Linked DNA regions of Homo sapiens: region 1 is linked to region 2. The links come from fine-mapping of genetic effects on gene expression. A gene starts in region 2. The other region holds a variant in brackets. All regions are shown on one strand. Distances are from middle to middle.

Region 1 (15,332 bases), 28 kb before region 2:
CCCATCCTTGATCCCTTCTAAACCGGATCCACATTTCCAGCAAGTAGAAGGACAAAGGAAAAGGTAACTAAAATGTCCAGGGCAGTAAAAAGTCTGTGAGTCAAGGTTCACATGTATACTCTTTGCTTTTCCGGGTACTGAGGGTATGAAACTAAGAGGTCATGCCTCCCAAAATACTGGAGGTAAATATGAAAACACGCCTAAGCACATACTGAAATGGAGACCAGGAAAATCCAAAGATAAGAATAAATTATATGCTGACTCTGCAGCTTAATCATCAACCACTTAATCTTACCCCTAAGTAACATCACATGAAGCATTTTTAAATATTTAGCACCATAGTTTCTTGTAGGCATCCAACAAATAATAACAAGAGGGAGAAGGGTTTGGTAACAATTCATCCTCAAAGAGCACAGAAAGTGACTGGAAGCTTTCTCATATCACTTAACAGCTACTGAGAAACAATTTATATAAAATCAGAGTCATCCATTTTTATGTGTGTAGTTTGATGGGTTCTGGCAAATGCATATAGTTGGGTAACCACCACCACAATAAAAAAAAAAACAGAACATTTGCAGCACCCCAATAACGTTCCCTTGTGCTTCTTCGTACAATCTCCTTCCCCCATTCCAGGACGCTGGCAACCACTTTGCTGTTTTCTGTCCCTATAGTCTTGCCTTTTCTAGAATTTCATAAAGTAAAATCAAACTGTACGTAGCCTTTGTGTGTGACTTCTTTCACTCAGTATGATGGGTTTGAGAGTCATGCATGTTGCTATGTGGATGAGGAGTTTGTTCCTTTTTATTGCTGAGTAGTATTCCATTTCTCCATGTCAATTTTCTACTCTTCCTAGAAGCCTTAAGATAAGCCCCATGCTACTATTCTAAATACTGTTTATTGACTTTCCTTGATTTTGTCTTTGGCAGAAATGTCAACACAGCTGTGGCCACTTGGCCAGGAACAAAAATAGCACCTGTCAGGAGGGTCAAGCTAGGCAAGCCAACAAGAATTTAAACAAAGAGTTGGAAATGCCTAGCCATACTAAGGAGCAGAAGCCAGCAGATGACAGGCCACCATCTTGAAGAAACCTCTTGACTGTAAAAGATTAGAACAACATTAAATTAAGGAAAACCGTTTCCCCATTGATCGATTGATCAGTAAGTATTTCCATTTAGGGAACAGTGATATACCAGATGATCTGTAACTTGTCCCACTGTGAGGGTGACATGAGCTATCCCATGGCACTTGAAGATTCAGGGTGTTCTGGTGTAACACAGGAGTGAATCTTCAGATAACTGAAATTTATCTTATTAAGTACTGTAAGTACTAATTAAGTATTAAAAGGTGCTAATTCTATGCCTTCTTAAACAGAGTCTACTGAATATAATCAAGTGTTTACTTGATGAGGCAGAGTGATCATTATCAACAGTCTGACTGCATGATAAGCCCTTAAATAGAGTTGTCCTCAGGGATGGCAGACAATTGTCTCCCTATTCCAAATGGTCCCAGAGTATTGCCATTTAAAAATAGAAGTTCTGATCTTCTTCCTATAATGTTAACTATCACTAGTCATACTGTTGCTGTTCTTGCTTTTAATCTACTATAGGTTGAGTTTCCTTTGTCTAAAATGCTTGAAACCTGAGCACTTTGGAATTCTGGTTTTTTGCTTTTTTTGTTTCGTTTTGGTGGTTTTTTTTTGTTTTTTTTTTTTGAGAGAGTCTCGTTCTGTCACCCAGGCTAGAGTGCAATGGCGTGATCTCAGCTCACTGCAACCTCTGCCTCCTGGGTTCAAACAATTCTTCTGCCTCAGCCTACTAGGTAGCTGGGATTACAGGCGCCCGCCACTACACTTGGCTAATTTGTTGCATTTTTAGTAGAGACGGGGTTTCACCATGTTTGTCAGGCTGGTTCAAACTCCTGACCTCACACCTCGGCCTCCCAAAGTGCTGGGATTATAGGCATGAGCCAGTGCACCTGGCCCAGAATTCTGATTTTTTTTGGCGTTTGGGATATTTGCATTATACTTACTGGTTGAGCATCCCTAATCTGAAAACCCAAAATCCAAAATGTCCCAATGAGCATTTCCTTTGAGCATCCCATCAGCAACCCAAAAATACCCAATTTTAGAGTATTTTGGATTTCAGATTTTCCAATCTGGGATGCTCAACCTGCACTATTTTCTCTTTTTATATAAAAAAATTATAAAATATGTCCTTCATACAGAAAAGCCCAAAGAATAAGTATCCAAGTACTCACCTTCTGATTCAGCAACTGTACACACTTAACATATTTCTTTCAGATCACTTTTCCTCTACTAGTAAAAACAATTTTTTTTTTTACATTATGAAAGTTTAGCTACCTTCCAAGACATCTGGAAAATAGAGAAAAGAAATCACTCTTGGCTGGGTATAGTGGGCCATGCCTGTAATCCCAGCACTTTGGGAGGCCAAGGCGAGTGGATAGCTTAAGCCCAGGAGCTCAAGACCAGCCTGGGCAACACGGCAAAACCCCATCTCTACCAAAAAAAAAAAAGTATATATACATATATATATACACACAAAAAAAAATTAGCCAGGTGTGTTGACACATACCTGTAGTGTCAGCTACCTGGGAGTGGGCTGGGGGGAGGGGGGACAGGGAGGCTGAGGTGGAAGGATCACCTGAACATGGGGAGATTGAGGCTGCAGTGAGCACTGATTGCACCACTACACCCCAGCCTGAGTGACAAAGTGAGACCCTGTCTCAAAAAAAAGGAAAAGAAAAGAAAAAGAAATCACTCTTAACATAGCACAACCACTCTTTACATTTTGGTAAATTTCTTTCTTTCCTTTATCCCCATGCAACTGGGTTTCCCAGATCTTTGTGCATTATATATATAATGTGGTATGTCACTTTATCACATGTTTCTTACTTTTTTTTTTTTCAGACAGAGTCTCACCCTGTTGCCCAGGCTGGAGTGCAGTGGCACGATCTCAGCTCACTGCAACCTCTGCCTCCTGAGTTCAAACAATTCTCCAGCCTCAGCTTCCCGAGTAGCTGGGATTACAGGCACGCACCACTACACCCAGTTAATTTTTGTATTTTTAGTAGAGACGGAGTTTCACCATGTTGGCCAGGCTGGTCTCCATCTCCTGACCTCAGGTGATCCATCCACCTCGGCCTCCCAAAGTGCTGGGATTATAGGCGTGAGCCACCGCGCCTGGCCCACGTGTTTCTTTAGATTGCTACACACCATAATTTTTTAGAGGCCGCATAGCAGAGCAAGTGAATGTACCCATTATTGAACCAATCCTCTCTCATCATTACTCACTTAGGATATTTCCAATTATTTGCTATTGTAAATAGACTCCAGGGAATATCTTTAAGCATACGGTTTAGTCTTTGGACTTTTAATCTACTGAGAAGGCGTATCTGAGTATTTCTTGACTTGACTTGTTATCATCAGAGTGAGGCCTAAGAAACTGTTGCATTCATTCATTCATTTATCCATCCATCTATTCATTTATTTGAAACACATTTACCAAGTTCCTTCTTAAGGTTAGAGATCTTTTTTAATGAAATAAATTAAAATGCATGGTTGCTGCACTCAATAAGCTCATGAACTAGCTGTGAAGACAAACTCACTGCACTTGAAACAATCAGACAGCAACAAAGGAACGAGGCAGGATTCACTGATTCACTGCTGAGTGAATGACACATGCAACTCAGGGTCTGGAGGAGGAAAACCTCCTTGCGGTTTACGCAGTCAGAAATGGGCAGCTGAGGAGTCCTTAAGGATAGGCGAGGTTTCTACTTACGTTGGCTTTACTTATCTATTTTACTGCTCTCATATTAACGAAGAGATGGTACTCAAATCTTTCCCCCAATCCAAAGTCAAGTAGAGCAAAAATAACTCTTTGTCTCCTGGCATTACGTGCTGTCCCCATCATTTTTGGTGAAGGAATCAGGATGGTGGGCCACCTTTCCTGTGCTACCAGGGAGCATTCACACATAGGCTGGGCTGCAGAGCCTGTAAACAGCCTCCTCTCCTCAAGCAGCCCAATTTCTCATATCTTAGCAATTGAACCAGACAACTATATCCCCTTTCTTGCTCTGTCAACAAATGCATGAAAAGCCTCTTTTTTTCTTAATGCCTATCAGACTGGAAAAAGTGCCAAAGAAGTATGTCGCCAGTGTCAAGAAAGACGTCCATGGAGAAAGAAAGGGCAACAGTTCACCTATTTTTTTCCCTCTGAAGATCAAAATGTAAACAGGCAGGCAAAGGCAGGCAAGCAGAAAGGCCTGGGTCAAACTCAAAGTTCCCCACCCCACCCCCAGTCTCTCTGCTCTATGAGACCCTGTCTTTTTGGGCTATCGCAAGTCCTCCTTGGCATGCCTCCCTCACCGGTGAACTTCTCAGTGTCAGAAATAGGGAGGTGCATCCAGTTGGTAAAAGCACAGAAATAAAGAGGCAATGGGAAAGCCTGAACCCACAGGTTCAACTAGATTCCCACACAAGCACACATTGATCTTCAATTTGAATCAGTGGGGGGAAAGGTCACTTATCTTTAAATGTGAGAGCTGTCTAAAACGAATGTATCTGCTGAAACATGGGATATAGCAATGGGCTAAATAATTACTGATTAATTCACTTAGCAGTCACCTCATTTTCTTCCCATTGTCTTCCCTACGTTTTCTTCCCCTGAGGAAATAAACACCCTGATGAAATAAAACAAAGTCTCACAATGCTGATTGGAAAGTCCCTTCTGGCAGGAGCCTCAGCAGTGACCACTAGAGCAAACACAGCGCCCACGTAATCTGCAAGAAGGTTTTACCTTCCTCTATTCCCTTGCCAGGAGCACCCTGACAAACATTACCTGGCTTCTTTGAAGATAGGTTTTCTGAAGAGGATTCCATTTCCTTCAGGAACTTTCTAGGGGAGGCAGTCAGAGGACTGAGTAACTGAAATGAGTGTTACTATAAGGAGGACAGGATCATCTTGCCCGGTGGGGAGGCAGGTCCAGAAAGCTTCGGGGGGCAGGGTACTGCTTCAGGGAATTTTGACAGAATCTGTCATCTTGTCAAAGGTGGGCATTCAAGGAAGTAGAAACAGGGTGAGCAAAGATGTGCTGGGAGGACTCAGGGAATTGCCAATAATTTGGCACAGATGGCCTGCAAAAGAATTGCTTCCAGACTTTTGGATTTCACAAAGCAGGCCATGAAAGAAAAGTAATGCCCATGGAAGAGTCCAGAAAACAAAGATATTGACTATCATTATCTTCATTTTGTAAAAGAAACAACAGTTTAGTGCACACATTCATCAAAAGGCATCACCTTCGAATAAAGGCCACAAATGCCGCCGTATCTAACTTGAAGAAACAGTCATGACAGCGTGTCTATGTTTTTTTCTCATTGCATGAGGACCGGTGGGAACACTGTCATGGGGCCAGCCCTGGTCTGCACATTTGGGCATGATGACTACAGGGCACAGGAAGGGGCTTTCCTCTCCTAAGAGGCCACACAACTTGCCCAAGCCTCACACGGGGGAGACATTAGGAAGCACTCAGGTGGGGTCTGAAGGGAAGCCTGTGTGTCCACCTGCTTCTCATGCTACAGGCCACTTCGCCTCCAGGCCCATGCTGATGGCCTGACAACTGAAGGAGACTGGCTCTTGAGGTCCAAAACTCCACCAGTCATTTAAGTGTCTGCAGGCAGCATGTGAAGTATAGTCATCAAGTATTTTAGATAAAAATGTGCTCATTCGATAGGTAACGCCATTAAAAATTTCATGCATGAAGAATTTGTAACTAGAAGTGAAAAAGTTTTAAGTTATAAGGCAAATGGAAAAGCACAATACAAATTATACATAATAATTAATAATGTAAATAAAGACTGAAAGGAAAGGCATCCAAATGTTAACAGCAGTAGCTCTTGGGAGGGGGGATTTTCGATATATATATATATAT[A/T]TTTTTTTTTTGAGACGGAGTTTCACTCTGTTGCCCAGGCTGGAGTGCAGTGGTGCGATCTCAGCTCACTGCAACCTCCACCTCCCGGGTTCAAGTGATTCTCCTGCCCCAGCCTCCCAAGTAGCTGGGATTACAGGCACATGCCACCACACTCGGCTAATTTTTTGTATTTTTAGTACAGACAAGGTTTCACCATGTTGCCCAGGCTGGTCTTAAACTCCTGACCACAAGTGATCTGCCCGCCTTGGCCTCCCAAAGTGCTGGGATTACAGGCATAAGCCACCATACCTGGCTTGGAGGGGGAATTTTAAAAATGCTTTTCTATGTCTTATAAATGTACTATAATTTATTTTCATGTTTTCCTTTATTTTCTATATTTTCTACAATACTTTCAAAAACAAAGGATGAGGCCAGGCACGGTGGCTCATGTCTGTAATCCCAGCACTTTGGGAGGCCAAGGCAGATGGATCACTTGAGGTCAGGAGTTTGAGACCAGCCTGACCAACATGGTGAAACCCTGTCTCTACTAAAAAAATACAAAGTTAGCCGGGCATGATGGCGCATGCCTGTAATCCCAGCTACTTGGGAGGCTGAGGCTTGAACCCGGGAGGCGGAGGTTGCAGTGAGCCGAGATCATGCCATTGCACTCCAGCCTGGACAAAAAGAGTGAAATTCCATCTCAAAAAAAAAACACAGAGGATAAAATCTTTTAATTTTTAAAAGTTTGAGTCAAAACTAATGTTTTTAAAAAACCTGCATTATCCAATTGTCATAAATTGCCACAATTCACTCTACTAGTGAAAAAACAAAAAAGAATTGTGGCTCATGTTGACATATACTTAATAATTATTTTTCTTTCTACTTTAGTATATCTATCTCATTAGCATTTTATTTTTAGATTTCCCAAATCAAACCAGCAGCTTCATGTCTTTACGTAGTTTCGTCCTCACATGATGATGTGAGAGTTTCGATTTGACTTAATTATGTCACTATGCAGAGGAAATTTAGCTAGGTCTGTTGATGAATCAGAAGTTCTCTTATATAAAACAACAACAACTACTACTACAGGTCAGCTAATGATATAGATGGTTTTTAAAGGAAATGAATCAGCTTTCATGGTTTCATGACAGGGTTGCTAAAACTTTGCTCTATACGATTTTCCCATATTTGGCTACATCTCTTCAACAACTTCACAAGTATTCATCTGAATACCTAAAAGTCCTGTATTTGGAATAAATCAAAAGGCTTGACTTACTACTCATGAAACCCTGAATCTAATTCCCTGGCCAGGGTATAAGTAAGCTGGCCCTCTGACCCACTCCATCTCCCAGTTACCCCACTGTGCTACTGAGCACACCTTTTCCTCTCCCAAACTCTACTGCATTTCTTCTAATACTCAATGCTTCATCTATGCCAGGCATTGGATTAGTTTTTTCTATCTCCCATTGACTCAGAAAAGGGAAAAGAAAAATCAAAGGCCATATAAGTAATAACAAATGAATCCTGACTTACTATTCCTTTGTAAAAGAAAAAGATAAAAATTAAAAATTCGACTCAGGAAATACAAGAATAGTAAGTAAATACAGCGAGTTAATGAAGAATTACAGATAAGAAAGTAGTGATTGAAGAATGAGTTATGCAGAGGCGAAATTCAGCTAGGTCTATTGACACAGGACAGGAAAAGGAAGAAGGTAGGAGGTTTGAAAAGGGGACACTGCAAAAAATGGCAGTGGAAAAAGTACAAGAAAGATACAGAGATAACCCAATACAGATACACAGAAATACATTTGAATTTTACAACTTTTTCATAACTATTATGATTACATGTTTTTGAAAACAGTGTAAATTGGTGTTGCATTTTCACAAAGCCGTATTATATAGTTTCTTAGTTTCTAGGGAGAATTTTTAAAATTTATAAATCATGTAAAAGGTTTGTTGAGCAGTCTAGGTAATTTCCAACTTCCAGAGACCAATGTCCAGTTCATTATAATTTCTCCCTCGAATCAGCACCTCCACTATGGCCCTATGAGCAGTGTGGGGCCACTAGTACTCTCCAAGGGTACACTACTTGGTTTGCTCATCTTGGAGCATACAGTTCTTAACACTGTCAGCCAGGAAGTGGGCTCTCAGAAAATGTTTGCTGAAATAAAACTAATGAAATGTAAGCATCAGGCTCTTTGCGAATGATAAAAAGCATCACACTTCCACTAAAAAAAAAAATTAGCAACAATGTATTTTATAAATTTATTTTCCTAAAGTCTATATTTAGAATATGATTATTCAAAAAAGTGAGTAACTTCTATTGGGGAAATTTTCATTAATAACCAGATTGCAGGTTTTTCCCAACTATAATAAAAAGGCAAAGACCAAAACAAAACCAAACAAAAAAAGGATTGTTCAGTTCTAGATGACGATACCAGGAAATTCTACCTGAGGCAAACCTATCCCATAGCCATCTCCATTCTAACTGTCTCACTCTCTGCAGCCATACTGAACAAACCTATTCCCTCTTTCTTGACAGCCCTCCTCATATCTGGAACTATGTTCTCTTCACCAAGCTAAGCATTACCAGTCCCTCTTCTCTTCCTCATTCATGGCTTCCAGAGCCTTCATTTCTTGATAGCCTTTCTACAGAGACTTATTTCATTGAATATGACAATCAGAATTGATGTGGTCTGGCAATGACCACGGTGGGGTTACCACTCACCATACCCAGAAATCCATACCTCTATTAGGGGTGCTTTGGGATGTCTGCAGCTCAGAACTGTTTGCAAAACATGTATCCTCTCCTGCCCTCCACCTACCTGCCCCTCTACCCCCTCCCCCTGGAACAATTATCATGAGACTCTAAGAGAAGTCCCTATCAAAACTTCACTATGAAAAATCCAGGGAGAACACTGGGAAATGCCAAGAATTCTCAGTCCCTGGGTACTTTCATAATGGGATGAAGAGGTACACATGAAGATGGCCCCTAACAAAGCCTCCCCGAAGTTTTGGGGACTGCTGTCCTCCTTGACTGACCCCCTCCCATCCCAACCCATGAGGGTAACTGGCTTATATGACTATTTAAGAAAGAATCTGCAAAGCGCAGATGAGCTTTTGCTACAATCCCACAAGTTGATCCCATAATCTAAGCTGTCCAGCAACAGAATAGACCTGAAATAAGCTGATGTGAAATAAGCCCTTAGTGATCACAATGTTCAAGCATGGCAGAGGGCCACTGTCAGGGTCCCTACAGAAGTCTCCAATGGGTAGAGCAGATGGGTTTGAGACCACTAATGACTCTTCTAGTACTTAAGATATGATCATTATACAGCCTCTTCAAGATCCTCTGGTCAAACTTAACCTCATATCCAATAGTCTGATGTTCTGGAGTGAGTGCAGGACTCAAACATTTATTCAACAATCAACCAACTAACTAACCAAACCACATTTACTGAATGTCTCTTGAATGCCAACCATTGTGCCATACAGGTGAAAAAGGAATTCCACTCACATTCTCTGGCCAATGGGATCCTTTATTTTTCTGCTTGATCTTATTAATCTATCACTGAGCAACCTTAGGCTGCTGCTGACAATTAATACTAAATAATTATTTATGATTCCCTATTCCTACCTTTTATTAATTATGGTACTTAATTTCTCAGTTTCAAAATTTCTGTAACATCATTGATTATAAATATATTCTATTTCCTACTAAGATGATGCCTACAATATTGAAAAAAAAAGGGGGCTCTCAATGATAGAAGGAAAAAATGGCCTTTTCTCCTAAAAACAATTATATTCAAAATAGACAAAACATACTAGGGAGAGAAAAAGGCAAAACATTAAAAAAAAAGAAAAGTAAAAGCTTAGAAGTAGATACAGTAAGATATTTGCAATTGCTATCTGCCCTTGCTCACTAAAACTAAAAATAAAATTGGCTTGCGGTTTACTAAATTTGGTTGCAAGTACTTTTCCCCACCAAACCACTCTGCAATCACATCAGTCACTAATGAAAATGATTGGGAGGGGGGATGGAAAGGAGGCTGCAGTAAAAACACACTGTATATTTTCTGGAACATATGATGAAACAGAAGGTTTCACTTCTTGTTTCAACCATTTTAGCACCTTCTCCTTTTACTCAATTTCAGGGCATGAAAGAGACTGGGCAGTTGTGCAGAATATGAGGAGAACTCATTTTGAGAGAAGATTAAAACCTGGCCCACTAATAAACTATCTTCAGTTACTGTACACATCAGTCAAACCAAATAATTCACTCTCAGTTTAACTCATTCTACAGGGCTCTGGAATAATACATCACTCTTCTGATAGAGGCACAAGTCCATTAATTACCAAACTGTGCTGCCACAGAGTTATACGGTCTTCATTCTTCCCCTATAAAGTGTGTTTTAGTTTTCGAGGCAAGAGGAGAAATTCAGAGGGGAAATGAGTAATTTAGGAACCTTTTACAGCTCTCTGGCCTGCACTAAGTAATCCTTTCTTCCCTTTCAGAGTTAATCATCAAAGGTACTGAACACAGTATGGAGGGCCTGGCCACCCATGCCCATTCAGCAACTACAACCTCCACCTAAATTCAGAATTATCATACAAGAAATGACCCATGCAGAAGAGACCAAGAGAAACAACCACATCTAGGCTGTGACAGCACAGAATGTATGTGTGTGTCTGTGTGTGTGTGCACGCGCACATGGGAAGTATAGGAACCAAATACCTGGGTCCAAATTCTAACCCTGCTTCTTCCTGGGAAGATGATCTTGTGCAAATTAACCTCACAATGCCTCTGCTTTTTGATCTGGAAAATTATCTTAAGGGTATAAGGGTACCTACCTGATAAGGTGTCTATGAGGTTACATAAGCTAATGTAGGTAATGTCCAAATCACAGTAGCTGGTATGTACATATACATACACCCTTGATAGATACCTTATTCATTCAATCCAAATTGCCACTCACTCCAGCACACTGGTATCTCTGGCTGCCAAGAGTTATGCAACAACATACTTAAACACCAAATCATCTAAATCATTTGGGTGGAACCATCGATCCTTAACCAGGCTTGTGAAAGGTTCTCTTGGCTCTGTTTACTTTGGACAGGCATCAAGCGTCTGTTTTCCTCAGAATCTGAAAGTCACTGGGTCAAGGCTGTAGAGGCCCCTTTTCACACAGAGGAACCAGTCAAGGACTGAGATTGCTCTGTGTGGTGGTGGTGGTCACCTGGCCAATTGCATGGGGAGTCACTTCGTGGCTTTGGCAGAGTCTGCCACTGTCTGCTAGAATAAATGTGGAGCCAAAATATGATTTGTCTATTTTGACTTGTGTACATTTTCTGAGTACAAGAGACTATTGATAAGAAGTTTAGGTAAGTGGAGAAAATGTTTGTTGATTCCCCAGAAAGCACAAAATGTTCATTCAGTGAAGAGAGAAGACCATTCGCTCATTATAGTTATGAATTAACGCTACATCTTCTACAGCAGAGGTTCCCAAGAGTGTATTGAAATTACCTGGGAATTTGTTGAAACACAAATTGCTGGGTCTCAGCCCCATAGTTTCTGATTTCGTAGGTGTGGGGCAAGAGGACACAGTGTTGAGAATCTGCACATCTAATACAATAATCCAGAAAATACTGCTGCTGCTTGTCCAGAGACCACTCTTGGAGACCACTGCTCTATAAGCAAGAGTACGTCACCAAGAAATTTAAATTCAGATCCTAGAACTAGAACACTACCAAGCAAGGGGGGAAATCATTCTTATGAGACAGTCATTGAATGAATGCATGAATCAAAGGGCAGATAAATACCTTCTCTTCCATCATATGCTACATTTCCCATATTTGTTTATACCGGACTCCATACTACGTATAAATAAAGACAGTCTTCAATATCCATTAAGATGACCTTCGATATCCTTCAACCAACCACAGTGGATTCTGAAAGCATACATACATGTGCATGCACACAGCCCCTGTGGTGGTCTGCTCAATGTAACTCAATCTCCTCTCTCCTTCCTTTTAATAGCAGAACCTCCAGAGTGTCTGCTGGGCAAATGGCTGCCCAGCTGCAGACTGATCTCCTCAGCACCCCCACAGCTAGGTGTGCCCACTAAGTCCCTCTTCCCACAGGCTGATAAGCAGACAAAGTGAGAGGAGGCTGGCCTCAAGCACTGAGTCAGGACCACAGCCTAGAGTAGAAGGTGGCAAAGTTCCTTTGTAAAGAGCCAGACAGTGAATATTTTTGGCTTTGTGGGCCCTATCAGCTCTATCACAATTATTCAACTCTGCCATTGCAGCACAAAAGCAGTCACAGACGGTATAAAAATAAGGAGTATGACTGTGTTCCAATAAAACTTTATTTATGGACGTGAAATCTGAGTTGCAAATAATTTTCACATTTTTTCCAACCATTTAAAAATGTAAAAGCTATTCTTAGTATGCGGGCTGTACAAAAACAGGAGACAGGCCAAATCTGTCCCAAGGGCAGCAATTTGCCAACCCCTGCCCGATGGGAAGATGACACAAGACAGAAGGAACCCATCCTTAGACAGCTTCGTGGAGGAGACATACTATCCACCCTGAACCACAGTCTACTTCCATTCGTGACAGAGACAGCTTTTATCTTCTTTTAAACAATTGATTTCAGGGTCCCTGTTAATGAAGCTTAGCATGTAATGCTAACTCATGCACCTACATACACAAAATCACATTTTGGTGTGACACGGTTTGAGTTTAGTACTGTTCAAAATGAACAAAAAATTAAGGAATGGAAGAGTCCCCTTTATTTTTTTTTAATCCCCGATGTAAGCTTAAATTCCCCATGGTCTCCTCCTAAGTTTCTCAAGTAGCAGAACTGATAGGAATAAACACTCATGTTGGTTCCTGCAGCAGGGATTGCCCAATGTCTATTCTCTCTTTATCTCTGCATAACAGAACCCTGCACAATGTGCCCTGCAGGGGGAATTATACTTCTCGACCTCTCAAAACTTGGTTGAGGGCAGGCACTCTGGGCCTAGGGAGAAAGGAGACCACATTGAAAACACGCGCGCACACACACACACACACAAACACACACACACACACACAGAGAGAGAGAGAGAGAGGGAGAGAGAGAGAGAGAGAGATACTTCCTAATGCTGCCTGGGCCTCACCCAAAACCCATGGTCCATAGGGGACTGACAGGAGATAAAAAGGCAAGGAGGGGTAGCCAACGTAATGGAGGCAGTAGTTATTGGTGGGGCTTTCCAGTAAGCCCTTTTGGCCTTCCTGCCCTTCCTTCTGGAAGCCTAGAAATCAGGAGTGCTAACGAAAGGGGAAGAGAACGGCAGAGACTCCAGCTGGCACAAACATCCTGGACCACTGAAGACAGCAACAGGTGAATTCCAGAATTCTTGACTTAAGCTGCTGTGTCAGGTGTCTGTTACTAGTAGCCAATGCAATTCCAATTCCCATAAGCCCCAAATTAGATCCTATTTCCACAACCGAATAAAGGTAGCACCCACATCAACGCAATGCACAGCTCTGAGATGGAGAGAATTCTCAGATATAAAGGAGCAACAATACATGGGGCTAAGATGCGGGTCTCATAGGGTGACTCTGGGAAAGCCAGTTTTTTTGCCTAAGTCCTCTCACCATCAGTTTACCCAAATAACTTCTGACTGGTCCTCTGTAGAAGCAGTCCTATCTTTGATTGCCATTGAGAATTCAATCTGATATGGACATAGACTGGGCTTAATGATGTCGAGCATTTGAATGAATGTCAAGAAAATGAGCTGCTCATTTTGGCTCTCCACTCATGGCTTTAGGCCTTGGACCAGCCTTCCCTGACTGAAAGCCAGTCAGTAGGTCAGAACATCCTATGTGCCAGCCACTGTCCTGGGCCCTGGGAACTGCAGTGCACTTGGCTTTGAGTCCCTGCCCTTAAGGAGCTCACAAGCTGATGAGGGGAGAGAGACGCTGAACAAACAAATACATAAAGACAATTTCGATAGAGGAAAGTTTTATGAAAAGACATAACGGGGTAATGCAATAGCAAAATAGGCAGGAAGGTGGGCTCCTAACTCAGCTGACATGGAGAGAGAAAGCCTCCGAATAGATGAGACTTAGATGCTGAGGGGATATTCATAGGAAAACCCAGGGAAGTAACTGGGAGTGGGGTTGATGGGAACTCCCTGTACTACTTTTGCAACTTTTCAGTAAGTCTAAAATTATTCTAAAAATTAAATTCATTTTTAATATAACAAATTTTTTAAAATCTAAAGAGAAACCCAAGCAGAAGAAACAAGAGCAAAGATCTTGAGACATGAACAACACTGGCCAACTCAGGAGAGGAGGACCGTGAGTGGGTGCAGCACAGGAGCAGAGAGGAAGGCGGGAGGTGGGACCTTCGAGGGGGCGTGGGCAGGAGGTGTTGAGACCGTAAGCCCTGGGAAGGTGTCTGGGTTTTCTTTTGTTGGAATGGAGAGCCTTGTCAGCACAGTGGCTTGACATGATTGACATTTTGAAGGATCACTCTTGCCGCTGTGGAGGACGAGCTCTAGGGTGGTGGAGAAAGTAGAGGCAGGGAGGCCCAGGAGGAGGCTGCAGCACTGGGAGATGGGGCTTCAGTCGCAGTCTTCAGCCTCCTTACCAACTGCAGGAAGAATCAGTTTTACCTAGTAAAGTTCATTCTTCCTGGTGTACACATAGCCTATTATACTGTAGACTGCATAAAAACGGGGAGTCTAGATTCTCATACTTCACTCCTGGTGCCTGAACAATTTTTTAAAATATTCACCCAAGCCCTGATACCCCTTATAAGCGAAACCATAATTACGAAATAAAGTGCTTTGAATTAAAAAGTTGTTTTAGGTTAGATTGTGATAGTTTAAAAATGGCTACTTCATGAGTTTGATTTGCTTATAATAGCAAAAAAGCAGAACTTAACAGAATGATGGGGTGATACTGCCCTCCAGGTGGTGAAAATCGGTTCTGGGTGGGGTACGGAATCTCACTCTAAGTGTAAAGCACAGATTACATATAGGACATCAACAGATGCACAGTTTATCTGTGGTATTAAAATCTCATGAGGAGGGATGGGAATAGGAAAAAAATGTCAAAAAAGGCTCCAGGATATGGGGGTACATAGTGAAAAAAGAGTTGAGAAACGTGAATTTGCATAAACACCCCAAATATAGCATAACCCAGGCAGAACTCCGCTGTCACTCTCTCCCCTCACCCTGTTCTACCTTTCTTTCCAGCCCTTACCACTACCTAATATGACATACTTTTGTTTCTTTGTTGTCTACCTGTGTCCCCCATCTAGAATGTAGGCTCCATGAGGGCAAGGGCTTTGCTTGTGGCTGCACCCCCAGCACTTACAGAAGGGCCTGGCACACGGTAGGCGAGGCTTGTTTT
Region 2 (15,332 bases):
AAGGCCCAGCTACGTATACTGCTAGGGCTCCTCCAGGGCCCTGGAAAGTGCTGGGTGGGCCCTGGCAATATATTCAAAAACGGCAAGGAATGCGTTGTACAAGTCAGGGGCCCTGGGGCTGGAGCTTCATTAGCTTCACAATAAATCTGCCTCTGTGGTCCCTATTATTATTCATTATTTATCTCAGTCTGTACATGTCTGGTCTCTCCAAATAAATTTCAAATCCTTAGAGATAGGAAGTACTGTCTTAAGCACTAACATAGGAAATACTCAAAAATGTGTGGCTGTCCTCACTATCCATGGTGATCTTGAAAGAGAGGGAAAAAATGTATAATACAAATGTATACATATACACACATAAATATATACACACATATGGATATACGTACACACATATATGTGGTATGTGTATTAGACATATACATGTATTATTTATATATGTGTTAGATATCCTACATGCCTTTGTGCCTAAAATATATATTTATTTCTATATATCAATTATATCTATAATACCAAAGAAATGGTGAATTTTTCAGTGTTATTAACCTGGCATCCAGATCATGTCCCTTCAAGGAGGTCTATCTCAGGAGAAAGTCACCATTGTAGTCTGGCAGACAATGAACAGTGCTTCCTTGGGAGGCCAGTGGGTGAGCTGGGCAAGGGACAATGGCCGTCAGGGGACTATCAGTGCTCTCTGGTGCTGGGCAGACAGTCTATTGTTAGTGACCCAAGAAGAGTCCCTCTGACTCCTGCCAAAGTTGACAGCAATTGGAAAGACTTCACCCTTAAAGAGGATATCCACTAATCTGGTCCCTGCTTGCAGCTAGCTTTAAAAAAAAAAAAAAAAAAAAAAAAAAGTAGGTGAAAACTACTGCAACATTCCAGTGCTTACAGCGAGGGGAAAATACAATTTTCTTTACAGCAATTAAATATATTAAATGGAAGGCACTTTTAAAAAATACACACATAATAAATTTCTGACATCTATGGTTTCCTATCTTCAGATTCTAAATAAATAACATTTTTCAACTTAATACGTTAGCCAGGTCAACATGGAATAAATCTATTACCTCACCATGAAACAAAATGAGTATCTACAATCCAGCAAGTATTTCTTTGTACACAGGACACGTCTGTACTGTCAAGATCTGAAGGCGGGGGTAAGAATGGGGTAGAGAAATATAAGGGAATGTGGGGTATGTATGATTGTTGCCCTAGAAGCTAAAACTAGAAAAGGAGGATTTTTAAGGAATTCAGAAACATTGTCTCCTGTCTCTCAGACTCAGTCTACAACACCAGGCCTCTGGCTTCCAAACAGTCCCAGGGAAGCCCCTCATCAAGTGTCACCAGCCTGTGCCAGCCTTAAGGTATCCTCACTGTCACCTACGGGAAGAATTGGGTTTTCTCAAAACAGCTGTCAGTTTGTATTTCTAGAACTGTCAACGTAGGAGATATCTCCGAAATATATGAACTCTAAAGGAAACCATTTTCTGAAGAATATGTGGGTTTTTGTCAACCCAGTCAGTTACAGGCAGAGTTCTGGTGTCTGTACATTTCGGTCACATGTCAGAAAATGTGTATACTAAATGAAAACAATTAGAAGCTTGTGAAACTTATGAGACAGGATGTTCAACAGTGATGTTTTATAAAGGATGATCTGACTGTTTACAGGTGAGAAGAGGCTAATGGAAAAACCAGTGAAAACAGAGTTTTGGAGACTGCCGTAAAGTTTCAGATTTCGGGTTCCCTGATCCTGCCTATGGGGTGTGTGGGTGTGTGTGTGTGTGTGTGTGTGTGTGTATGCACATGTATTTAAAACTCCTAGCATTACACCTGGGGGCTTCTCGGGAACCCTGGGAGTAACAGGGAGATCTTGCCGCCAAGCCACAGGGCACAGGCAGAGAGCAGGGCAGGCAGCAACAAGCCTTTCATTCATTCATTTATTAATTCAGTCATTCCTTCTCCCCACAGGAAGTGTCCTCAATGGAATGCACCCACAGGCCCAAGGCACAGTGCCTCTTTCTAGTCCTGGATTTTTTCAAATAAATTCAGGCCACAAGGAAAGGCCATGTTGGAAGCCGCTGGCTTTGACACCACTTTCCCAGTCCACTGTGGCAAATGCCTCTGCCAGGGTGTAAAGTGCCTCTGGCCACACAAAAGAGAACGTGGCCAGAGGCTGCAACACCAGCACTAGACTGTTGAGGAGTCTCCTATTTTCCATTCTCAGTCCTTCCCAGGAAGAGCCTGATGATGTCATAGTTATAAAATGCCCAAAACAGCACCACTAATAGGTGGATACAACCCATGTTAATCTCGAAGGTAGACTCTGACAGTAGGATTACATATTTATTTAGCAGATACACAAATGGCAAGAAACTAGATGATGTAGACAACTTATTATTGTAGATAAACACTTCACATATATTATCTCACTTAATCCTCACTAACCACTCCGTGAGATGGATGCTGCTACTATCCTCATTTTACAGAGGAGGCATAGTACGGTTAATTTGCCCCTGGTCATAAGGGGGACAAGTGGCAGACATGTGTGTTCAACTCCAAGCAGGCTGGATTCGCTATGCCACTGCTCAGATGACCTTCATCTCGAGTTCAGTTACTTTCTAAAGGAGGAAACAGAGTCAATCGTGTGAGGGGAGGTGAGGAGGGGACTGTCACGTTCTTCACCTAATTGGCAACTGGCATAGGCTTAGCTTTGCATACCTGTCTGGAATTCAAATCTCAAATCATACACATCAGCCACGAAAGCTCAGGCAATTATAAACTGTACCTTAGTTTGCTCACCTAAAAGTGGGAGTAATAAGGACCTATGACATATTGCACAGCTTATCTATTTAGTACACTGTGATGCTCCTTTGAGAAGATAATGCAAATATTTACTAAATCATCTTAGGAGCTAAATTCTACAGTTTTGATAGTAAGTGCCCTGATTTTTTTTTACAGAAACTTTGACCTTTATTAATTAGACGGTTTATAAATCTATACTATGAAATGAAGCACTGTAGGTTTATTACCTGGGTTTTGGAGATGAGGAAACTAACAAGTAGAGACTCACAACAAGAAACCTGTTGATATTCGGGGTCAGGAACCAAGTCATAGCTAATGCAAGCCATTCTTGGTCAATGAGACTCTGCCCCTTAACTGGGCCCTTGCAGGGAAATGTTTCAATAGCAAAGCTGAGGATCCTAACATCTGAGGAAAGTTCTAAATGACCTGCTAGTCTGGTACGATCACATGAATAACTGAATTGGGTCAGATTCCTGTGTTTCTATTCAAGTGCTGCAGGCCTGCCTTGGGGCCTGTGTACTGCCTGCGCCCAGAATGTCCTCATGACTAACTCTCACACCTCCTTCGAGGTTTTGTCTCCCATATCAGCCTCTCAGCAAGGCCCACCCTGACCAATCTATTTAAAATTCTCATACTTTCTCCTCCCAACCCTCCGGACCCTGATCTAGTTTTTCTCTTTTCTGTATCACTAACCACCTCCCAACATACTGTGTATCACATACCTCAATTGTTTATTGTCTGGCCCCCTATCCTAGAATATAAACTTCCTAAAGAGTGATATTTTCATTTTGTTAACCAAAAAATATCAAGTGCTCATAACTTTGCCTGGCATAAACTAGGGACTCAATATATATTATTACATAAATAAATTCAAAATGCAGAGGTACTTTTAAAAATGCACCAAATAATCAAATAAGAATGATTCAACAGTTGTGTTTCTCAGACAAAAAGCCATACGATTTCATAGCACTGGGATGCAGGGTTGTAGCGGCATTTCATGAGCCTGGGACATGACCTTCAGTGCTAAATTTAGTGCTCCTGGTGTTTCTAAGATTCCCAGTTACCAGTTTAACTTCATCTATCTAGGATGTTCATACCAAGAATGTTTCTACAAACTCAATTATCTACTCAAAATAAGAAGCAAGCAAACCTGGACCTGCTTTTCCCATCTCCATGTAACAGACTCAGACCTATGAATGAATTGATAACAAAATTGATGGAAAAGCACTTCACAGTTGCAGGGCTACGGGATTTCTCGGCAATTTAAATTTAAGTGGGGATGGGGGAGAGTTTTAGCTAGGATATTCAGTGTATACACTGAGACAGGTACTCCAGTACTGAACCAGCAGTGAAATGCAAGAAAGAAAACAGGAACACCGGTACAGCACTCTTCCAGGAGAGAAAAGAGCTAAAAAAGTGGGTGGTGAAAATCACACTTCCCTTGGTTCTAAAGCCCCCAAATCCTTGTTCATTATGGGGAGAGGAAAACAGTTAAAAACAAAAGTTAAGCATACACATATAAGATAACAGAGAGTTATTCTCAACTTAATGCACTTAATTAATCCAAACTAAACATAATACTTTTATAATGAAAAACACAGGCCTTGAAAAATCTGCCAAGCAAGAAACACACCATATTCCCATAAATATTCATTTTATCGCTGTTTAAGGGTTTTTACTAGTGGCTAAAGGTAATAACCCAGATAGGCCCCCAAAATGGAATGCTCACCTAAGCATATCTCTAATACTCACGGTTGCTAAATAACAAGACTGTTGAACAAATTAAAAGCAAAATAACACACCTCTTATTCTTTTCATGAATCTTTTTAATGTAACCACTCACCAACAGACATGAAATCAGTAAGTCAATCATTAACGGTCTCCAAATACTTATAGATTGAATCAAAAACGATAAATACCACATAACAATACCTGTCTAGAACTTTGACTAAATGCTTTATATTTTCACCCATGTCTTTTCATCAGAAGTGTATTTATATGACACTATCTACTAATTGGGATATTTTTATTCTTCTTAAGATCAGTTCTTCTTTCTGCATATAGGGCTGCCTTTGATAGTAAAGGGCCTCTCCCCAGCAGAAGTGTATAATAGTTTGAGCCTCTTCATCCTGGGAATTGCAAGTGTTTGTTCATTTTAACATTTGCTTTTCATAAAGTTTGCTGGTTCAAACTGTTTTCAACTGTGTTAGCCCTGCAACACAGTTCACCTAGGTCACTGCTATTGCTGTAAACTTAATTTTTCCACATTTTCACTATTAAAAGGACAACACTAGCCTTCTGGGAATGAGGTAGCATTACTTCAAAGCTGAGTTTTAGAAAACGTATCAAACTCTTAACCTTCTTTAAAAATGTGTGCAAAATATTAAGACAATTTCTACACTTAAAAAAAAAACCTCATGATTCACCAAGTTTTAAACCATCTCAAACTAAATCCTCAAGAAGGATAACTGTCTTTAACACATTTTAATAAATATAATTTATACTGTCTTTTAACCAGCTTGTCTAAGTAGGTAGGCAATGGGGTAAAATTATTACTCAGCTTATATAAATTATAGTTTATTCTGAAATAACTGTTAGCGAGAATGGATGGGATATGCAATGACAGCCTTCTGTAAGTCAAGAGAAATTATTTATTTATATTACTTATATCATACATATTAATGTATAGCATTATCTATATTTATTTTTTACTTATTATTGGGAGTAAGGGGAAGAACTTGAACTAGTAACATTTCTACCAGAACTTCACAGTACCGGTGTTTTCGCTTTATTTTAAACTAGCCATCATGAAAAATCTGATTTAATACTTTCAAGCACTTTCAGTTATGACTATTCAATCATGATATGAATCAGCAAATTGGTTGCTCCATTAAACTGCTTTTAAGACTACCAAAACTTGCCCAGCTCTTCTGTCATACCTTTAGCAGAGGAAATGGAAGAAGCTATTACAAGGACGCCTGAAAACTTGAAAAGTTTCAAAACCTGGACAATTACTCAACAGCATTTTCCTCTGAAAGACATTTTGTAGACGTTTCCCATGATTATCTCCTATTCCGGATGGCCCATCAAATCACATTCTAAACAGGCATTCAACACTTATTAAGCAGCCACTGTGTGCAGAGACAGCACTATACTAAGCAAAGGAGCATAGGGTTCTGCCTCATTTTATTCCTGCATAAATACACAGCAGTCGTGATTTATTCTCTCAACTTTGTAGAAACGTGAGCTGCATCCACATGGCTGAATCCATGGCATTCATTTGGACTTCCTGGGGGCAATTTACAGGTTCTCTGGATTAGACAGCCCCATTGGGACATCGCTCGGACCCTTCACCTTCTAGCCCACGCAGGACAACTCGCTGGCGTCGGTCACACCTTCCGCAGGTGGTTGGACCGCCTAAGCCAGATGCACCCGGCCCACCTCCCTTAGCAGGGGTTCCGAATAGAAGTGTGAAAATGTGTGCAATGACTTCTGCAAATCAGAGGACTTGTTGAAAGGTCCAGGGGTCCAGGCGTGAAGGGAAAGCAGCCACCCTGCGGGGCGCCCCCTCCCCGGCGTCTCCCGGGCCCGGGGCGCTGCGCAGGCCGCCGCCGATCCCAGGGCGCAGCCAGCGCACCTCGGGCCTAGCACCATTAGAAAGGCAAATCGCAGAGCCGGGGTGCATTTAAATGCCCGGCCATGGGCCCTGGGGGTGTCTCTCCAGCGGGCGCCGCCGCAGGGGCCTCCAGGGCGCGTCGACCCCGGGGCGCTGGGCGCGGCCCGCGGGCGCACCCAAGACCTCAGCCCGCAGCGCCCGGGCGTCCGCGCCAGGCCGGGGCAGGGGAGGGCACCCAGAGCCCCCGGGCCCGCGTCCCCGGCCCCGCCCGGGCCCCTCGGCCGCCTCCCAGGGAGAGGGCAAGCTCCCCGGCCCCCGCCCGCGGCCGCCGGCCCCGGCCCCCTCCCGACGCACCACACCTAGCAACCGGCGCTGACAGGACGCAGTGGCGGCGGCGGCGGCGGGAGGAGGAAGCGGAATGGCTGCCGCGGTGGAGCCACCCCCGCCCCCCCGCTCCACCTCCCCGCGGCTGCAGCCGCCGCCGAGCCCTGACAGCTCGAGCCGGGGCGGAAGCGCCCGGCGGCGTGCAGCGCCCGCCCCCCGCTGCCCTCAGCGCCTCGGGCTACTCCGACCACCCGGGCCAACTAACTCCGCGACCCTGCCCAGCGCCCAGCTCCCGCCGCCCGCCGCGCCCTCCGCCCCGCGCCCCGCGCGCCGGCACTCGGCCCCGCCGCCGCAACCCCGCCGCCCCGCCGCGGCGCTCCCCGCTCCCACCACTTCGCAGCCCGCGTGCACGCCCCTGAGTCCCCCAGCCGCCCGCCCGCCCGCCCGCGGCACCTCGGGGCGCCCGCCCCCTCCCCCACCCGAGCCCGCTCCCCGCCCCCCGGCACCTCGCGCCCCCGCATCCCGCCACCCCCACCTCGGGGCTCGCACGCGCCCTCCCCGCCCTGCCGCCTCCCTCCCCGCCGGCCACCCCTGGCCATTCCGGGGCTCCCCGCCCGGGCAGGAGTTTCCGCGCGCCTGGCACCCCCGCCCACCCCCGGGCCATTTACCGATGTGGTTGTCCTCGATGTGCTCGATGAGGTCGGCCAGGGTGGGGAAGTGGAGTCCGCAGCCCCCGAATCGGCAGGTATTGGAGAAGAAGGAGGCGGCGGCGATGCCTGTCATGGTGCTACATCGAGAGCCCCCCTGGTGTCGGCTCTGCGAGCGCCGGGCGGGCGAGGGAGGGAGGGAGGCCGGGTGGGGTGAGGAGAGGAGGGGCTGGGGGAGGGGGAGAGAGGCGGGGTGAGGGGAGCGGCGAGGACGGGACGGAGGGAGAGGGGGCGAGAGAGATGGAAGGAGAGCGAGGAGCCACCGGGAGGCAGAGGGGAGGCGGCGGCTGCGGCGGCGGCGTCGGGAGCGGCGGGGGGAGGGCGGGGGCGGGGGCGGGGGGGGAAGGCCGCCGCAGCTGGGAGGAGGGACCAGGGCGCGCGGCTACAGCTGTGCGGCCCCAACCTCAGCGCGCGGACCCAGGCCTCACCTGCGAGCCCTGCCACCAACTTTATCTCGCTAGGCCTGCCCTTTACGGCTTGCCATCCGTGCCATCTGTTTGGAGCCTCCTTGGTTATGTATATGACGTTCTTAATACACCCACATCGATTAATTACACCTACCTCCCTGCGAGGAGAACTCAGGGAGTTACCCTGGTCCCTCTCAGGGACATTTTTTTGTACTCAGCCACCTGTCTAGGTGTGACACATTCACAGGGGACCCAGGAAAGGTAATTGTGTGCACCTTCTTCTTTAAACCTTCTTTAGAAAAAGTACACATTCTCCGGAGGTTTGTACTAACTAATTGATTTTAATGAAGCTTTCCCTCTAGGCCAGAAAAAAATCTTAGCTTTATTTAAATTTCAAAATAGAGTGCTTGGTTGTCAAGTGCATTTGCCTGTGTTTTACATATGTGCCACGTTTTTTATACTCCCTGCTCCTTCTAGGAAAACAAAAACTAAAATAATTTCATCACCCGAAATTACAGCACCCTACTGCACCCACTCCACCATCTCAGGTCTGGTAATTAACCCATCCTCGTTTCAGCCACTGCAGAAAGGACAGTGCATTGGTTAAGGCTAGAAGGAGCGGAAACAACGGCAAGGGACATAGTGACTCTTCATTTAAAAAGGAAGCGATTTCATCCTGTGAGCATTTAAAGCATAATGTTGACCAGGTAACCACTTAAGGTGAATTTAGTAGCTTCCCTGAAAACCAGCATTTTGCTGAGAATCAATTACTTTCTTGTCCCCACCCCCTCCTCCAGTTGCAGTCATATTTCTTCTGTAAAGTGTGTATTTTCCAGTAGCACTTTTCCAGGTGTCTAAGAAATATTACACATTATCAGCAGTTTATGACCCAACAGTACATTTTTTTTATTAATATTAATATATGCATACTGAATTTAGCATTTTTCCTTAGGGCAAATTTCACTTACCCTCTGGTGCAGATGCATGGAGAAATAGTATTCCTCCCTCCATAAACTCTATGCATCTCTGTCTAGTGTTATTTCTAATAATGGGATTGTTTGCTTTTCATGTAAGTGCTTAGAGTAAAGGCACATGTAATATGTCTGTTGCTACAGGAAGTTTTATGATCTGACCATCACCGGTGGCATTTTCTCTTCTCATCTCTTCTGTCTTGCAGCTCACAAGGTGACAAACTTGCTGAGATGAGATTCGGCTTGGGTGGGGCTGGGGCAGCTGTGTCTTGAAGTTCAGTTTGGTGCCAAGAATGGTTTCATGGGCCCAATGAGGGTGGGGGCAGGGCCCTGGTGGGCCTGATAATGAGCCAGGGACCGAGTTGGCAGGGGACTGAGGCCAAGGCCAGACAAGGGTCTAAAGAGCAGGAGTTAGAATTCTAGATCTTGAATTAGAATTTTGGCAGCTGTGCAGTACATTCAGCTGCCCAATCTGGGAAGGCCTTCAGCTGAGAGCAGGCAGAATATCTGGCAGGCACACACCACACCAAATGACATGGAAATGCAATACAAAACTTCAGCCAAAAATGATGCCAAAACAGCCACCCTTAGAGATGAATGTTAGGCACCCCCACTATGCAGCATCTGGGAGCCCCAAAAGCTTTGAAGAAGTAGCAGTTCTGTCCTCCAGAGGAAAAATTGTCTACGTGGAGTTATTAACTCCCAAGAGTGTGGAGAGGTGGTTCAGGCAAGAGAGTTCCGAGATGGGAAGTGCCAGAAATGTGCAGGTGAAAGATGAAGGAAGTAAGGGGCCTGGGTTTCACTAATGCATGGCTTTCTACTACCTCCTGTCAGTTTCACTATTCCTAAAATAAAACCTTGCTAGACCAAATTGAAAAAAATAGATTTTTTAAAAAATGAAGTGAGCTAAAATAACTTCCAAAGTAAATCAAGATATTGGTTTTTAAGACAAAATTATTTTCTCTACCTTGGATAATTATTACTGTTTTGTAAGGAATCAGTTCATTTTGCCTGAAAATAATCCACCCTACTACTTCTTCATATGTGACTGAAGCTTTGTTTATGTGATGTTCTGCTCATACTACTTTTTAAAAATCTGTACACTCTAGGCATTTCCGGTCTTTATATAAGATACATGATTGTGATCTCTTAGACCTGGAAGATACTCTGGCTGTCAGAACCACTGGTTTTGGAGATGTGGTAAACTGAGGCCGGGGCATCAAGCAAGTTCTCCCAGGTGCACACAGACAGTTTTTTTCTCTGTACTCATGGTGCATTTAGAAGGCATTGATAGACAATAGAAGGACAAATTATATATAGATAGTAACCACAGGCAAAGTTTTTTAAAAATTGCTAATAGCATGCTTACCTTTCTGTACTTATATTTTTAAAATGTTTGTTTCCAGGATATCCCTTTAGATAAAGTCAACATCTAAGCTACAAAAATATATAAAACAAACAATTCAACTTATTACATCCGAGAGAGAAGGTGATGACTGATATACCTCTGTACTGGCAAAAAACATCTGTCTGATTTGGAAAGTAAAAATATTTGAAAGGAGAGGGAAAGTGAGGGAACTGAGAAGTCAGAATGATATGACAGTGGCTGTAGACAAGAAGCATTCTCTGGGTTTAAGAGCCTTTTCTTGAAAACCATCTGTCTCTCCCCAGAGCCCAGTGCCTCCCAATGTATAGGCACAAAGTATGGATGTGCAGTGGCCCCATAATATGGTACTTAGCATTACAAATGGTTTGAGATCGCATAACAGTCTCCCCAAATCCAGCATGTCCAGTGCCCTCGAGATGGGGCAGCTGCCGGAAGGTGTGAATCCACTGGTCTAATGGAGCCAACTGAAGACACTGAGGATCCTGCTTCATACAGCTGTCTGTCCTCCACATACAGGAATTGGTTTATTTTGGCATACACTGATAATCAAAACCGTGCACTTCCTGTGTCCTGTGTGGACATCTGTTAATGATGCAAGAGGATCTATATGAACATTAGATTCTATCTTGAATCTAACTCTATACTGCCTTCAACTGTAGCTTTCTCTGGCTTTTTAGATTGTTTTCCAGGTCCCTCTTGAGGTGCTTTTCAGGTTTACTAGATATTTCTTCTATTGTCACCACTGTGTCGAAGGAGCAGATCATGAACCTTGGTCTTCTTCAGCTCATGCAAGTCTGTGGACGCTTACAATGTCTGATGTTCCCTGGCTCTTGAATGCTAAGGCTGCCACTTCCACCAACAGCAACCTTGGGCTCAAAGGGATGCCTTCTTTTTAGGCTCCATCTTCTTCTAAGGAGGATGATTTCTATTCCAGGTTTTATTGTTTAATATTTATGTAACCAAGTTTTCTGTATTTATTTTATTCCAGCTCAGAAATGAATCAGCTTTATCTGCTCTCTGGTGATTAATTCTCATTTTGTCCCTCAGTCTCATTTTGCCTAGGATTAAGAGCTAGCCTTAGAATGAGTAATGGGGGTATTCTTATTAGTTGCCACCAGTGACCTCATGAGTGTTAGCCCCTAGCTCTCCACCTGGCTGCTCCTGCCTACTGACTGTATACGTAGTTTTGGCATTTATTTCCAGTTCCTTGAAGGACTTTTCCAGAACTAAAGTAGTAAAACACCCACCCAATCACTGCAGTTCTAATTGAGCATCCTGGATCCATTCCACTACATTATGTGCCACACTACTACCCAGATGATAACTCCAAACCCAAATCTGATGGGAGCCACTGCTGCTCAGGCCACCCCAACCTGAGTTTTAGAATAATGTTAACAGAAGCAGCTAAGCAATTACTGTTTCATTTTTGCCTTTAACCTATCTTGATTGAACATCTATGCAAAGCTCCTGTTACACAACTCCAGAAGGCTCTATTTATATAGGCAACTGCATGAACAGTGACCCTGGGATCTGTGCAGCCTTGCAGTCCTGTTCCACTGCGCAAGATATGAGGGATACAATTTGAATAAGACAAGCCCAGTCTCTCCTCACGTGAGAGAGCACTAGGTGCTTTGCAAAGTCCTCCTCAATCTATTCTAAGGGCCTGCTAGGGGTGGCTTGGTTGGACTCCGTGTACTACCCTCTTGGCTGCTCTGGTATCTATTATTTCCCTTCTTTCCAGCTTTGGCTCACTCAGATGATAACTTCAGTTGCTGTTGACTGTAATGGAGCCACTAAGGCCACTAATGCTTGTAAAAGACTGCACAGCCTTTTTTGCCCAAAGATGTGTTTTTAGACGTCACTGATTCTCACCCAGCAATGCACAGTCTTGAGGATTTCTATAACTTCAAAGGCTACTAGCACGTTTTTTGTTCTAGCTTTTTGAGGTTTTACCAGCTCACACTATTGCAGTCCGTTTCCTCTGGACTCAGACAAGTATCACTGGAGATTGGACTAGAAGATCAAATTGGGAATACTCCATGATCTCATCTCCCCTGCTAGAATGTCTTAGTGGTAACTTTCACTACCAGAATAGGCTTCCTGCTTTTCAGTGACCAAAATTGATCCCAGCCTTACCTCCTACAGTTTCCCCACATGTACTGACAGTTCAAGATGTACCAAATCATTTTAGTTTTCTTTCTTCTTCTTCTTTTTTTTTTTTTTTTTTTTTTTTTAAGATAAGATCTCACTCTGTTGCCCAGGCTGGAGTACAGTGGCACGATCACGGCTCACTGCAGCCTCGACCTCCTGGAGTCAAGCGATCCTCCCATTTCAGCTTCCTGGGTAGCTGGGATTACAGGTGCACGCCACCATGCCCAGCTAATTTTTTGTATTTTTTTATAGAGATGGAGTTTTGCCATTTGCCCAGGCTGGACTCGCAGTCCTGGACTCAACCACCTTGGCCTCCCAAAGTGCTGGGATTACAGGTATGAGCCACCGCATGCTGTCATTTAGTTTTCAAAATGCGCTCACTTGTTCAACAAAAACCACCTTGCCTTTCTTTGCAAATATTGTGTAGCCTGTCTGGAACATTCTTTTTCCCTCTTCCCTATTCCCTCCCCCAAATACTCTGCAGCAACTCAGCATGTCATCTCCTCCAGGAAGCCTTCCCTATAACTTCCTCCTCTTCCTTCCCTGCTGAGCTGGATGCCTGTCATCTGTGTTCTAGCCAAATTCCCTCTGCATCAGATTCTGACTGCTGGCTTACTGGTCTTCCATCTCCTGTGTACCAGTAGTTCTCAAACCTTTTGCTCAAGAATCCACTTGAACCTTGATCTCATTAATATTTATATTTACTTATAAATTATATACAGGTGCTACTTTTCACATATAGTATGTATATTATAGGCTGGGCACAGTGAGTCACGCCTATAATCCCAGTACTTTGGGAGGCTGAGGTGGGAGGACATTTGAAGCCAGGGGTTTGAGACCAGCCTGGTCAATATAGCAGGACCCTATGTCTGGCAAAAAACTAAAAAATTAGCTGGGTGTGGTGGTACACCCCTGTAATCCTGGCTATTCAGGAGGCTGAGGCAGGGGGGAATAACTTGAACCCAGAAGTTCAAGGATACACTGAGCTATGATCACACCACTACACTCCAGCCTGGGCTACAGAGTGAGATTCTATCTCTAAACCAAAACCAAATGTAGTATGTGTGTTATGAAATAAATCAAATTCTTTTTAAAACGCAGGAATAGAAGGCCTAGTATCTTCATACCATACCGCAGAGTATTGCCTGGCCCACATCCTGGGGTGAATGCATTCCTCCTTGGAGGCCTCTGCACTTGATGGTAGCCTCCTTGAGAAAAGAAACTTTTATTTTTTTTTTTTTAGCCGGAGTCTCGCTCTGTCGCCCAGGCTGGAGTGCAGTGGCACCATCTCGGCTCACTGCAACCTCCGCCTCCTAGGTTCAAGCAATTCTGCCTCAGCCTCCCGAGTAGCTGAGACTACAGGCGCCCACTACCACACCTGGCTAATTTTTTGTATTTTTAGCAGAGACGGGGTTTTGCCATGTTAGCCAGGATGGTCTCAATCTCCTGACTTCATGATCCGTCCACCTTGGCCTCCCAAAGAGAAACTATCTTTAGGCCTGCACTGCTCAATAAAAGTTGCATGGGAGTATAGTTCAGCACTGTGATAAGGCAGTGTGCTAAGACTTCAGTTTTCAATGTTAAAGCAATTTCTAACAATTTGTTACTGTTCCTCTCTAATGTAGCATCGAGGAAAGATAGTCTTCAATCTCTTAGCTTGGATAGATTACAAGTCATTCCTTCCCGTGGTTGTGGACACACTTTTGACGAGACCTCTTTCTAAGGTCTAGCACAGGGACTGTGCTGCGCCAATAACAGGCACTTAGAAAATGCTTGTCTCATTTGTTTTGATGGTGCTAGTTTACTAGTCTCTGCTGACGCAAAGCCATTCAACTGGACAGAGATAAGCAGGGAGCCATTCAGCAATGACATGAGATCTGACACTAGCTCTCCTTTCGTAGACTGACTACGATACCTTTCCCTTTACACAGATGTTCAAATTCATTATGGTGATTATTTTAAATAACTATTACCACATTCATTGAGTGCCTACTATTGGACTTGATGCCTTAACAGAGAGCAGTTCTTAAATCCTATGAGGTAGACAAATGCTGTTATGCCCAAACTATGGATGAGAAAAACAAGACCCTGGGAAATAAGGTAACTTGCTGAGGTCCTTAAAGCTAGTAAGTGCTGGAACTAGGATTGAACTCAGCTCTGTGTGACTCCAGAGTCCTGGCACTTAACATTCTACCCGTACTTGAATTTGTGGATTATAAAACACTTTTGTTCTCTCCCCTTGAATCTGGGGGCGGGCCCATGCTCACATAAATCACAGAAACTAGGCTAGAGGGGCAACAGCATCCTAGTTTGCCAAATGCACTTAGGTGAGGATACTGAGAATCAGGATGGGGAATTGATGATGGAGATGTCATGAGGCCTCCAGCAGGAACTGAAGCTCTTGGCTTGTCTTTTGCCCTCTGCTTCTCTATTGGGAGGTCCTCTCATTACTGTTACCAAGCTTGTTTCTGGTCTTAAATACCTTATTTTAAAACTAAACTTTATAGAGACGTCAGACTTTTAAAAGATACCCTTGGGTTGCTCTTCACCCTGTTCCTGACAACCTCCACTCTGCGCCTTCCTGCTGGTGATTTTGGGGTGGAGTAGGGAAAACAGGCATCACCTCTCATGAGGAAAGGTGACCCTTTTGCTTTTGTCATGCTCTTTATCTTTGTCTCCTGTTTTGTAAGGACTTAACTCATGTTGCCTTTCAGCTAATTGTTTGGCATAATTATATTTTCTGTTGCAATTTTTGTTCCCAGAGTCACAGAACAAACAGTCCCATTAAACGTCATCTCAATGGGCTCTGCAGCTCAATCCTTTCTTTTCCAGATCTGGACCAATGTGGAGGCTACTTTTGCCTTTCAGAAAATGGACCCAGATTCCAGTCATTTCTCTAGGAAATGACTTTTCCCCTGGGTTTTATAACTCAATTTGCCTTTCTGTAATTTTCATCCCATTATG

The links. PIP is the estimated chance that this variant, and not a neighbour inherited with it, causes the effect. A credible set is the group of variants that fine-mapping cannot tell apart.
Region 1: its variant is the best candidate, but not a certain one, in a credible set for the expression of JAZF1 in follicular helper T cells (Schmiedel 2018, PIP 0.75).

Annotation. Positions count from the first base shown.
Region 1 is chr7:28,145,166-28,160,497 of GRCh38, forward strand. All of the region lies in intron 1 of JAZF1 (JAZF zinc finger 1), which reads right to left. Among named protein-coding and RNA genes, the nearest start is that of JAZF1-AS1, 28 kb to the right of the region's middle. The variant A/T (reference allele first, on the strand shown) is at 5,946.
Region 2 is chr7:28,173,050-28,188,381 of GRCh38, forward strand. JAZF1 (JAZF zinc finger 1) reads right to left here and starts at 7,746. Exons shown (of 5, transcript NM_175061.4): 1 at 7,414-7,746. The coding sequence starts at 7,528. JAZF1-AS1 (JAZF1 antisense RNA 1) reads left to right here and starts at 7,408. Exons shown (of 4, transcript NR_034097.1): 1 at 7,408-7,490; 2 at 12,621-12,703. RefSeq lists enhancers at 5,965-6,466, 6,467-6,966 and silencers at 6,821-6,940, 14,107-14,307.